4 separate regions of the Homo sapiens genome follow, and all the other regions are linked to region 4. Evidence: fine-mapped expression QTL. A gene starts in region 4. Each other region holds a variant in brackets. All regions are shown on one strand. Distances are between the middles of the regions. Region 1 overlaps CD44 (CD44 molecule (IN blood group)). Region 2 overlaps SLC1A2 (solute carrier family 1 member 2). Region 3 has its middle 30 kb from the start of CD44-DT. Region 4 holds the start of CD44 (CD44 molecule (IN blood group)).

Region 1 (2,750 bases), 81 kb after region 4:
GTGGGGGGGAAATCTTTTGTGTAATGCTTTATAAACATCTGCAGCTTGAATCCATAAATGGCTTCTCAGTGATTCAGAATGTGGAGAGCTGCCCTTTATGCAGCTCCACAAGGAACTCATGGTTACACATTTCAAACTTTGGTTGAGAGATGTTGTTTTTCCCCTTAGGACACTCACATGGGAGTCAAGAAGGTGGAGCAAACACAACCTCTGGTCCTATAAGGACACCCCAAATTCCAGGTGAGTTTCAAACTTTGAGGCAGAAAAACACACTGAAAGCAGCTTTCTCAGAATGTCCCAGCAAGGACGAAGAGACTCATTTGAAAGCACATTCTCCACAATGCCCAACATATGAATCCAATTGCTCCTCTTTACAAGTTAAAGGATGAATGAGAATACTACACCCTCTTGGTAGGAAAAGATGGAATAGTCTTTTCTTCCTGGGTTCTGCAAACTAGCTGAGCTCATACTCAGATCTGTCCCTGGCCTGTCCCAGAGAAGTGCCATGTTAGTTACTAAAGCTTCCTTCCTAAATGAATGATCACCAAGAGGACCCCATGTCATACCTAGGTCCTTTCTATCCCAATCCAATTTCCACTTATTTCTGGGGTCCAAGGTGAAGCATGTAATTTTCCTTTTACGATTACAGACAGGGAGGAGCTACAAGAGGCATTTATGTTAGATGGAGTGAAAACTTTCTTTTGGTTCCCCAACTAATTTTTTTTTGGTCGAGGGACCGCCTGCTGATGTGGACAGAATAAACTTTTCAGAAAGTATGCATGTGCAGTGAGGAGGCTGGGACACCTGGTTCTCCTGAGCATCAAGACAAGGCATTTGTTGCAAATTCTTTATTTGACTTGGAATTAAAATTGATTTGTCATAGAGAATTACTAAAGGGAAGGGTTCTCCTAAGGTTGTAAATTACCCTTTTAATTCTCTCCTCTTCAGAGGTCTCCAGACTGAGCCTCTCTTGGGGAAAGAGAAGAATGTGGCATGCACCGTTCTCCTTTGCCCCAGCTTGCCTAAGCACACCTGAAGACAGACCAGACAGAGACAGGGGTGGGCTGTCCCAAGGGAGAGCACAGGGGAAGCCTTAGCTGTCATCAGGCAGCAAGATTCTTCCCAGCTCCAGTGACAGTGCAGGTGGGATATCTCAGGGCTGGAAACCAGGGCCACAGTGGGCAGGAGTAGAAAGGAAGAACAGAAATCGGGCCCTCCTGTCAGTCTCCCCCACTTCTGACTCTACCTCCCTCTCCAAACTCATCTAAACCAGGAAAAGGTGAGGCAAAGGTAGTGCTGAGCAGGAAATCAGAGATAAACCAAAATTTCCAAGAAGAAAACAGATAATGAGACTTTCCATGCCTCTTCTTTCTCAAGCCCTGGTTCATTGCACACATATACAACCCACTTTGCAACTGAATTTAGTGGAGTTGTCAAGTCATATTTTAGTCCTAAAAGAGCCTGATTTCAAAATGTGTAGAATATTAATCCACAAGTGATATATAATTATTGAAAACATTTGAAAAAATACAACTAAATAAAATAATGGAAATATAAATCAATTATTATCAATCTCACCATCCAGAAATACCATGGTTACCATTTTAATATACGT[CT/C]TTTTTTTTTTTTTTTTTTTTGAGATGGAGTTTTGCTTTGTTGCCCAGGCTGGAGTGCAGTGGCGCGACCTCGGCCCACTGCAACCTCTGCTTCCTGAGTTCAAGCGATTCTCCTGCCTCAGCCTCCTGAGTAGCTGAGATTACAGCATGCCACCATGCCCAGCTAATTTTTGTAGTTTTAGAGATGGGGTTTCACCATGTTGGTCAGGCTGGTCTCAAACTCCTGACCTCGTGATTCACCCACTTCAGCCTCCTAAAGTGCTGGGATTACAGGCGTGAGCCACCGCACCCGGCCTTTCCTGTCATTTTAAAATGTAAAATATATACCAAAATGTGATTACACCTTACACGGTGTTTAGCAAACATTGCCTACTGGTTAACCATGGCTTCCATGTCATTGAATATTTCCTCCTCATATTGTAGTGCGTAATGCAATAGATGTACCCTAATTTATTTAACCAATCCTTTATTGCCTCCATTTTTGTTTTTTAATACAATGTAAGGTGGATAGGTGGATGCTCTTATACAGGAAAAAAATGTTCCTTTCAAAAGAAGCCTACATTTCCTTTTATATGTTTAATAATATTATACCAAAGGCATCTACAAGATTCAACAAGTCATCCTGTCCTTTTTTAGAAACATAGTTCTCCTGAAGGGACTTGAAAATCCTGACTGATGATAAAAGATTAAAGCAAGAAGGCTGTTGGACAAATACCTTCAGCAAATTGCTCTTCCAGAATTACCTGCCTATTGGCTGGACCTATTGGCCAGACCCCCCTGCAGCGCTGACTGTGGTGCTTGTTTCAACTAGGTCAATTATAAAGTGCATTTTTGTTTTTACAAAGTGTGTCTCTGAAGCTCACGCATGTCATTTAATTTACTCATACCAGAATGGCTGATCATCTTGGCATCCCTCTTGGCCTTGGCTTTGATTCTTGCAGTTTGCATTGCAGTCAACAGTCGAAGAAGGTAAGGGGCTGTCCTGGGGGCTTTCAACTTGGAAAGGGCATCATTTAAACCTGGGCTTTATATCCTTGCTGCTCAGAGCGTAGTCCCTGGAACCAGCAGCCTGGGTACCCTGGGAGTTTGTTGGAAATGCACAATCTCAGACCCAACCCCAGACCTCCTATGGCA
Region 2 (2,500 bases), 160 kb after region 4:
GCGGCTTACAGGTGTTTCCAGTACTGCCTGGGGGCTATCTGGATTTCTAATTTCCAATCCCCATGTGCTCCCTGACCTCTGACCCCTGATCTAGTATTGCCATTCTTGAGGTCTCAGTTCTTACTACTTACATGTTCTATAAATCAGTGTTGCTATGTCCTTGGCTACAGGACTTTGCTTCCCCACCTGACTTGTTCTCTGACTCTGAAGTATGAGCCATCTTCTCTTTCCTCCTCTTCTCCACACCTAACCTGCTCAATTTGGCAGTCCTAATTTCCAGTCCCTCCCTATTATATCCAGTTTCCTATGGTGTCCAGTTATGCCTAAAGTCTTAACCCATACTCAGTAAATTTTAGCATTATAATTTGATTCTCTTATAACAAAATTCCTTCTCTCTGAACCTTTGACTTTACTCTTTCCCTAGTCATCTAACCCACTAACCTCTTTACACCAAGCACATATCAACCCAGATTGTCTAACTACCCTTTGCTGGATCCTTTCTATCTTCAGCAAAAAGAATCCATCACTTGCACTTGGGGTTACTAATACTTCACATTTAGTATCTCCTCTTTTTGCTCTCAGCTAGAAAGCTTGACAAATGACTTCACAAGTAAGTTATTGGTCTGGAAAGACAAAGGCTTAGGGAAGATTAGATCCAGGACAGAGGGAACTAGTTCCGCAGTAATGTACAAAATCAATTTCAGGCCATTCCCAAGTCCTTCTCTCAAGCCCATGGAGAGGAGTCTGCTACGTGGGAGGTCAAAGAGAATCAATCTGAATATTCTGGCTGAGAATAGCTCATATTACTTGGTTAATTTCATTTGAAATTAAGAGAAAATGCCCGAGGTATCAAGGTCCCAAAGAACTGGAATAAAAAAAGCTCCATTCAGTGTCAGCAGAAACTGGCCATATCTATGAGAGATAGGTTTTTAAAGGAACAGTTGGAGTTGATTTAAGCAGTTGGGAGAGGGTGGAGACCAGAATTGTTTCTGGAGGTTTTTTAGGAGAGAAATGGTTCCTTAAAGAAGTG[G/T]GAGGCAAGAGCTGGGGTTGTATCTTCACTTATTGCAAGTGCTTAATCCTCGGGACTTTCCAAAGCCAAAAAACAGAAAGACAGCAAAACAAACAAATAAAAAAGCCACTATCTCCACCCTCAGAAGACCGTGGAAAGAACCTTATTTCAGCCATGATTTGTAAATGGGAAGTTTCTCAACAGTCTAACTTCCCTTGGCTTTCCAGAGCCTTGATCTGCACTTGGATGGAAACCGTATTCAGCTTGTAATTTTTCTTTGTAAACATTGCCTAATTGAAATTGCTCACTGGAACGGGGGTGTTGCATCTGAACAAAACCCTCTTGGACTTGGCCGCTGGGGTTACAGAGTAGTGAGTTGTGTTGAAACTCCCCAGTAGAGCCAAAGGTCCTGTGACTTCCCAGAATCCACCAAGACTCTGGAAACAACCAGGAAAGTCTTTGAATGATTCACTCCAAAGCCCTGGCCCCATTGTTCATGGCCTCAAGCTCCTCCTGAGTATGGAGAAGACTGAGGAACACTTTGACAAAAGGGGGTTGGGTGTTTTAAGTTATGACCCACCAGAAAAGACCATGGGGGAGTTAGGAAGGACCTGAAAGGAACATAGATAGCTGGACAGTGAGGGAGAAGAGCTGCTCGGTGGTGGGTGCTGGGGATATTTGCAAAATCTCCCCAGAGGAACTCTCCTTCCTACTCCTCGCTCCTTCCACCTCTCACCTCCCACTGGTTGTTAAACAATGTTTATTGATCTTCCATTGCCCAGCAACCTAGTCAGCTCATCTCTTCCCTCACTCTCACTCATCCAACCTGCTTCCTGCCAAGCCAAACAAAAAAGATCTGCTTCTGCTTCTCAGTGACTGTGCAATTCTGCTCCCTCTCTCTCCTCTTTCTCTCTACCATTCTAGATGGCTAAGGAGTAGGCTTACCAAATTTGGAACAAACAAACAAACATGACACTCAATTACTTTTTGAATTTCAGGTAAAAAATGAATACTTTTTTTTTAGTATTATTATGTCCCATGCAATATTTGTGACTTACACTAAAAAACTATTTGCTTTTTATCTAAAATTCAAATTTATCCAGGCATTCTGTATTTTATCTGACAACCCAACTAAGGAGACAAGGCCATGTGATCTTTCAGATGACAACGTGAAAGGACTACTGAGCTCATTCATCTCTAAGTAGCTGTCATCCAAACCTTTAGAAATTGTGCTTGGATAAATAAACATACTTCATCCATCCAGATTCACCATTTCTCCCAGGTTTTGGCCAAATGCCCCTATTTCCTGTCTCGGGGACACCATTCTAGTGATGGATGGAGGTTACGGAAGGGAGTGGACCCACTGAGTGGGAGGGGAGCAAACTGGGCAGACTAGAGCCGCTCACATGGTAATAAACCTCTGTCCCTCATGGAGGTATTTTCTTACTGAACTCCTCAGCTCTCCACCCACTTTGAATAATGATCACAGCT
Region 3 (2,750 bases), 32 kb before region 4:
AAGAGAGTACCACCCAGGACTCATATCCTGTGGCCATGAAAGTTTGGGTCACAACAGGTAAAGGACCATATTCAACCAGGGTGCTGGCAGAAGGTATGGAGAGCATAGAATGGGTAGTAGAAGAAGGAAAGTATGGTTATAACCTTAATCCCAATGACTAGGCACAGAAACAGGGTCTGTAGAAGCCATATTTTATGTTAATTATATCTTTGCCTATGTTTCCTCCCACTACCTTCTAAGAAGAGCACAGGTGGTGATTAAAGTTTTAGATTGCAGGTGACAATGTGACTGAACTCACCCTGACATGATACAGTGTTTGAGGGACTTTATGGAGGCCAAAAGGCAAAAGAGATGGGCTAGGATGAAGAGTTACTATCTGCTCTTCCCAATCTACTCTCTGCCCTTCTCGGTCTTCCTCTGGGCCCTGGGAGACTGGTCTCTGCAGACCACATCAACGAGATGTTTTCACTTCTGGTTTCTGAGAGGAACTGGCAGGATATCAGAGGGTAGAAGGAGATATATAGGGTTATTTATTCCTCAGGTTCAGCTGCAGATTGTCAGTGATTGAGCTGCTCTGCCAAAAGTTGATTTTCTGTGTCTTAGTTTGGGTTCTTTTGAAAGCAGTGCAACTTGAGTGTTGGAGGTTGACTCAGGGAGCAGAAAGAAGAAAGAAAAGCCAATGGAGTGTTTATAAATGATCTGGTTATTGTTGTGGGCAATTGGGGTGCAGTGACTTTGGGGGCTCCCTGAGGAATTACGAGCATGTGCCCCAGAATGATTTCCACAGAGGCTGATGGGCTCCGGGCATTTATCCACTCACTTCCACCACCTACCTATTGAGTTTGCGCCTGGAGACATATATTCCACGAATTTCTCCATTGTAACTGTGCTGGCTAAGTGGCCTTCTGAACCTTTGGAAAAAGCCCCAAGGAGCACAATTAAGAAAGACCTTGAACAATCTATCTTTGCTCTTGAGGTGGGACTCAGGTAAAGTGTGTGCAACTGTCCACCCTGTGGTGCTAAAGTCAGGCGGACTGATGGTATATGTTGTGGTACATCACCAGCACCTTCTTGCCCTCTGTCAGATGCAGGACTCCTGGGTTTGCTTCTTCTCTTTGCTGTTTCAGACATAATCATAACAGATCCTGTCCTTACTAGTCCCAGGGTATTTCATTATCTCTTTTTTGCTTCCTCTAAGGAGGTCTATACTTTTGTAATAGCTCCTCTTAACTCTCTCTTCAATCATCCTTTGGATCTGTTTTGTGCTAAAACTCT[G/A]ATAGATAAGACTAGTGAAATTTCAAAAGTGAACATATAATGAGCTAAAATCCAGATAGCTAGTCTAGACAAGGTCTACTGTTTCTACCCAGTATCCACATACTAGTTTCTTATTAAAATGTTCAAAGCTACACAATCAATTTTTTTGGACTCCCCAAGATGCAGAGACTTTGAGAAAGCACTTTTCATGCCAAGGAAACACTGGCTCCTTTGGGGCTAACATGTAAATTTATTATTTTTTAAATGTCTGTAATATGGTATGGCTGTGTCCCCATCCAAATCTCATCTTAAATTGTAATCCTCATAATTCCCACGTGTCAAGGGAAGCATCTAGTAGGAGGTGATTGGACCGTGGGGGTGGTTTCCCCCATGCTGCTTTTGTGATAGTGAGTGAGTTCTCACAAGATCTGATGGTTTTGTAAGTGTTTGACAGTTTCTCCTTCAAACACTCCCCCTCTCTCCTGTTGCCATGGAGGATGTGTCTGCTTCCCCTTTGACCATGATTGTAAGTTTCCTGAGGCCTCCTCAGCCATATGTAACTGTGAGTCAATTAAAACACCTTTCCTTTATAAATTACCCAGTCTCAGGTATTTCTTTATAGCAGTGTGAAAATAGAATTTTTTAAGGAAATGAAAATTATATAATGTTTACTTTCCTCAAACTAGCAAAATGGACATCTGTCATTCTGTTTCACTGCCCAGCATCTAAACCCTCTTGTTATATTTGGAGAATTTCCCACCTATGTCTCTTGGTCAGAGAGTGATATGGTTTGGCTGTGTCTTTACCCAAATCTCATCTTGAATTTAGTTTCCATAATCCCCACATGTCATGGGAGGGACCCAGTGGGAGGTAATTGAATCATGTGGCTGGTTACCCCCATGGCTCTGTTCTCATGATAGTGAGTGAGTTCTCATGAGGTCTGATGGTTTCATAAGAGGCTTTTCCCCCTTTTATTTGGCACTTCTTGCTGCTGCCATGTGAAGAAGGACGTGTTTGCTTCCCCTTCTGCCATGATTGTAAGTTTCCTGAGGCTCCCCAGCCATGTTGAACTGTGAGTCAATTAAAACTTTTTCCTTTATAAATTACCCAGTCTTGGATATGCCTTTAATAACAGTGTAAGAACAGACTGGGAAAAGTAAATTGGTACTGGGTAGTGGGGTGCTGCTGTGAAGGTACTTGAAAACATGGAAGTGGCTTTGGAACTGGGTAACAGGCAGAGGTTGGAACAGTTCAGAGGTCCCCAAAGAAGAAAGGAAAATATGGGAAAGTTTGGAACTTGTAGAGACTTAGAGGGATCATAAGACAGGAAGATGTGAGAAAGTTTGGAACTTCCTAGATACTTGTTGAATGACTTTGACCAAAATGCTGATAGTGATATGGACAATAAAGTGCAGGCTGAGTTGCTCTTAGATGGAGATGAGGAACTTATTGGGCACTGGAGTAAAGGCCACTCTTGCTATGCAGAGACTGGCAGC
Region 4 (2,750 bases):
TGGGTAGGAAAGATGGGAGAAAATGAATTAATGTTTACACAGAAAGGAGGATAATGGGGGCAAAAATAATAGATGAACGTATGGGTGGATGAGAGAATGGATAAAATGATAGGTGGATATGTTGATCTTGGACAGATGGGAAATGAGTGGATATATCAATAAACAGATATGTGGGTGGATGGGTGGAGAAGAGGATGGTGGATGGTTGTGGTTTTATGAAGAGATGTGAAAAAGGAAGTGTGGAATGATGGATGAGAAGTTGTATGGGAAGATGAATAGAAGAATAGGTGGTTGAATAAATTAAAAGGTGTGTGGTTGGATGAATGAATGAGTGGGATGATAGATGGACCTAAGTGGTTAGTGGATGGACAGGAGGATGGATGGATGTGAGAGCCCCAGAAGGACATAAGGAAAGATGGGTGGATAGATGGATGGGCGGATGGAAGGATATTTAGGAGGATGAATGAGCATGTGTGTGGAGAGAGGTGCCCATTCACACTGGCTTGAACACATGGGTTAGCTGAGCCAAATGCCAGCCCTATGACAGGCCATCAGTAGCTTTCCCTGAGCTGTTCTGCCAAGAAGCTAAAATTCATTCAAGCCATGTGGACTTGTTATTGAGGGGAAAAAGAATGAGCTCTCCCTCTTTCCACTTGGAAGATTCACCAACTCCCCACCCCTCACTCCCCACTGTGGGCACGGAGGCACTGCGCCACCCAGGGCAAGACCTCGCCCTCTCTCCAGCTCCTCTCCCAGGATATCCAACATCCTGTGAAACCCAGAGATCTTGCTCCAGCCGGATTCAGAGAAATTTAGCGGGAAAGGAGAGGCCAAAGGCTGAACCCAATGGTGCAAGGTTTTACGGTTCGGTCATCCTCTGTCCTGACGCCGCGGGGCCAGCGGGAGAAGAAAGCCAGTGCGTCTCTGGGCGCAGGGGCCAGTGGGGCTCGGAGGCACAGGCACCCCGCGACACTCCAGGTTCCCCGACCCACGTCCCTGGCAGCCCCGATTATTTACAGCCTCAGCAGAGCACGGGGCGGGGGCAGAGGGGCCCGCCCGGGAGGGCTGCTACTTCTTAAAACCTCTGCGGGCTGCTTAGTCACAGCCCCCCTTGCTTGGGTGTGTCCTTCGCTCGCTCCCTCCCTCCGTCTTAGGTCACTGTTTTCAACCTCGAATAAAAACTGCAGCCAACTTCCGAGGCAGCCTCATTGCCCAGCGGACCCCAGCCTCTGCCAGGTTCGGTCCGCCATCCTCGTCCCGTCCTCCGCCGGCCCCTGCCCCGCGCCCAGGGATCCTCCAGCTCCTTTCGCCCGCGCCCTCCGTTCGCTCCGGACACCATGGACAAGTTTTGGTGGCACGCAGCCTGGGGACTCTGCCTCGTGCCGCTGAGCCTGGCGCAGATCGGTGAGTGCCCGCCGCAGCCTGGGCAGCAAGATGGGTGCGGGGTGCTCAGCGCGGACCCGGCGGCAGCCCCTCCGGCTGAGTCGGCCCTGGGGGACTGGAGTCAAGTGAGCTGTCTGCGAAGTGCATTGGGCTCCGGAAAGCAGGGCTGGGATTTGCGCTAAACCGTTGGAGAATGTGTCTGTGGAAGCACCATTTGGTTGAAAGAAAAAGAGAAAGAGAAGAAAGTTTGTTGGGCAGGCTGCCGGCGCGCAGTTTTGGGCGAGGTCGCTAGAGCTGCAGCACATGGCAGAAAGTAACCGTTCTCCCGGATGCGCACAGTCGTTGTCTGGACTAACAGGCTCCTGTGCCCAAGGGCTCGCCAAGCCCCACCGGGCTGTGTCTAGGCAGGGCAGAGCTGGGCGGGGCAGAGACTGGGGCTGGAACAGGGCGAGTGGCTGTTATCAAGGTGGTCACAGAAGGGATCACAATTCCAAGTGTGAGACTAGCTGGCAATGGGTTTTCCAGAAAGGGGTCCTGGGTTCTCCCAGCTCCCCACTGAGCCTTGTTCCAAAGCTTACAGTCCGCAGTGTCACTGCCACCTTAGCGCTGTGGAAGCTTGAACCAGCTCTGCGGTGAGGTCTTGGGTCTCCATGAGATTCCAGCCTGGGATAGGGAGCATGAATATGAGAGGCAACCACTGGACCAGCTGCTTGGTCCTCACCACCTCCTGCTTCTGCCAATCAGTGTGGGGAAATCTCAACAGTAAGGTGGCTTATATTCCCTGCCTGGCAGCCTCAGAGCAGAGAGAAGAGCCTTGATACCAGGGCAACATCAGGGACCCTGGAGCTAGGGCTCCAATATCTCATCCAAACAGGGTCAGTGCTTTGTGGTGGCTATGGAGGGGAGGGGCTGCGTGTAAGGTATATTCTAGCACGGCTCAACTCCAAGCATTCTCTTTCTTTGTCTATGTATGTACAGATAATTACATGGCCGATTTGCTTATCGCTGGCCAAAATTAATCTTTCTTTTAAGAAGTGCCAGCTGGGTCATTAAGACAGCTCAGCCTGCATGCAGTAAATTCTACTCAGCAAATATTTATTAACCCAGTTCCACGGGAGTACTGAGAAATTGAAACACACAGTCTCACCCAGGTAGTTTAGATTGAGTACCCAGTATAAAGTATCTTGAATTACTTTCTGCTTTCTCTATCTTCCTACTTTCTGCAGTAGGAAGAAAGTGACCCTAGGTGGAGGCTAGGCAGGATGAGTTCTCTGTGCATATGCATCTCCCTTTCTGTGTGAGTGAGAGGTCTTTGCTAGGTGGGGATTTGGGGATCTAGGATTTATACTACTGAAGCTGAAATAATA

The links.
Region 1: its variant is fine-mapped to the expression of CD44 in whole blood (INTERVAL, PIP above 0.99).
Region 2: its variant is fine-mapped to the expression of CD44 in whole blood (TOPMed, PIP above 0.99).
Region 3: its variant is fine-mapped to the expression of CD44 in whole blood (INTERVAL, PIP 0.96).

What each region holds. Positions count from the first base shown.
Region 1 is chr11:35,219,148-35,221,897 of GRCh38, forward strand. It overlaps CD44 (CD44 molecule (IN blood group)), which reads left to right. Exons shown (of 18, transcript NM_000610.4): 16 at 169-240; 17 at 2,507-2,585. Among named protein-coding and RNA genes, the nearest start is that of CD44-AS1, 5.5 kb to the left of the region's middle. The variant CT/C (reference allele first, on the strand shown) is at 1,616.
Region 2 is chr11:35,302,791-35,305,290 of GRCh38, forward strand. The region is part of intron 5 of SLC1A2 (solute carrier family 1 member 2); the gene reads right to left. Among named protein-coding and RNA genes, the nearest start is that of SLC1A2-AS1, 22 kb to the left of the region's middle. The variant G/T (reference allele first, on the strand shown) is at 1,031.
Region 3 is chr11:35,106,350-35,109,099 of GRCh38, forward strand. No RefSeq gene overlaps it. Among named protein-coding and RNA genes, the nearest start is that of CD44-DT, 30 kb to the right of the region's middle. The variant G/A (reference allele first, on the strand shown) is at 1,276.
Region 4 is chr11:35,137,967-35,140,716 of GRCh38, forward strand. CD44 (CD44 molecule (IN blood group)) reads left to right here and starts at 1,205. Exons shown (of 18, transcript NM_000610.4): 1 at 1,205-1,404. The coding sequence starts at 1,338. It overlaps CD44-DT (CD44 divergent transcript), which reads right to left and starts at 66. Exons shown (of 3, transcript NR_120528.1): 1 at 1-66. RefSeq lists enhancers at 370-934, 2,102-2,602 and a silencer at 845-914.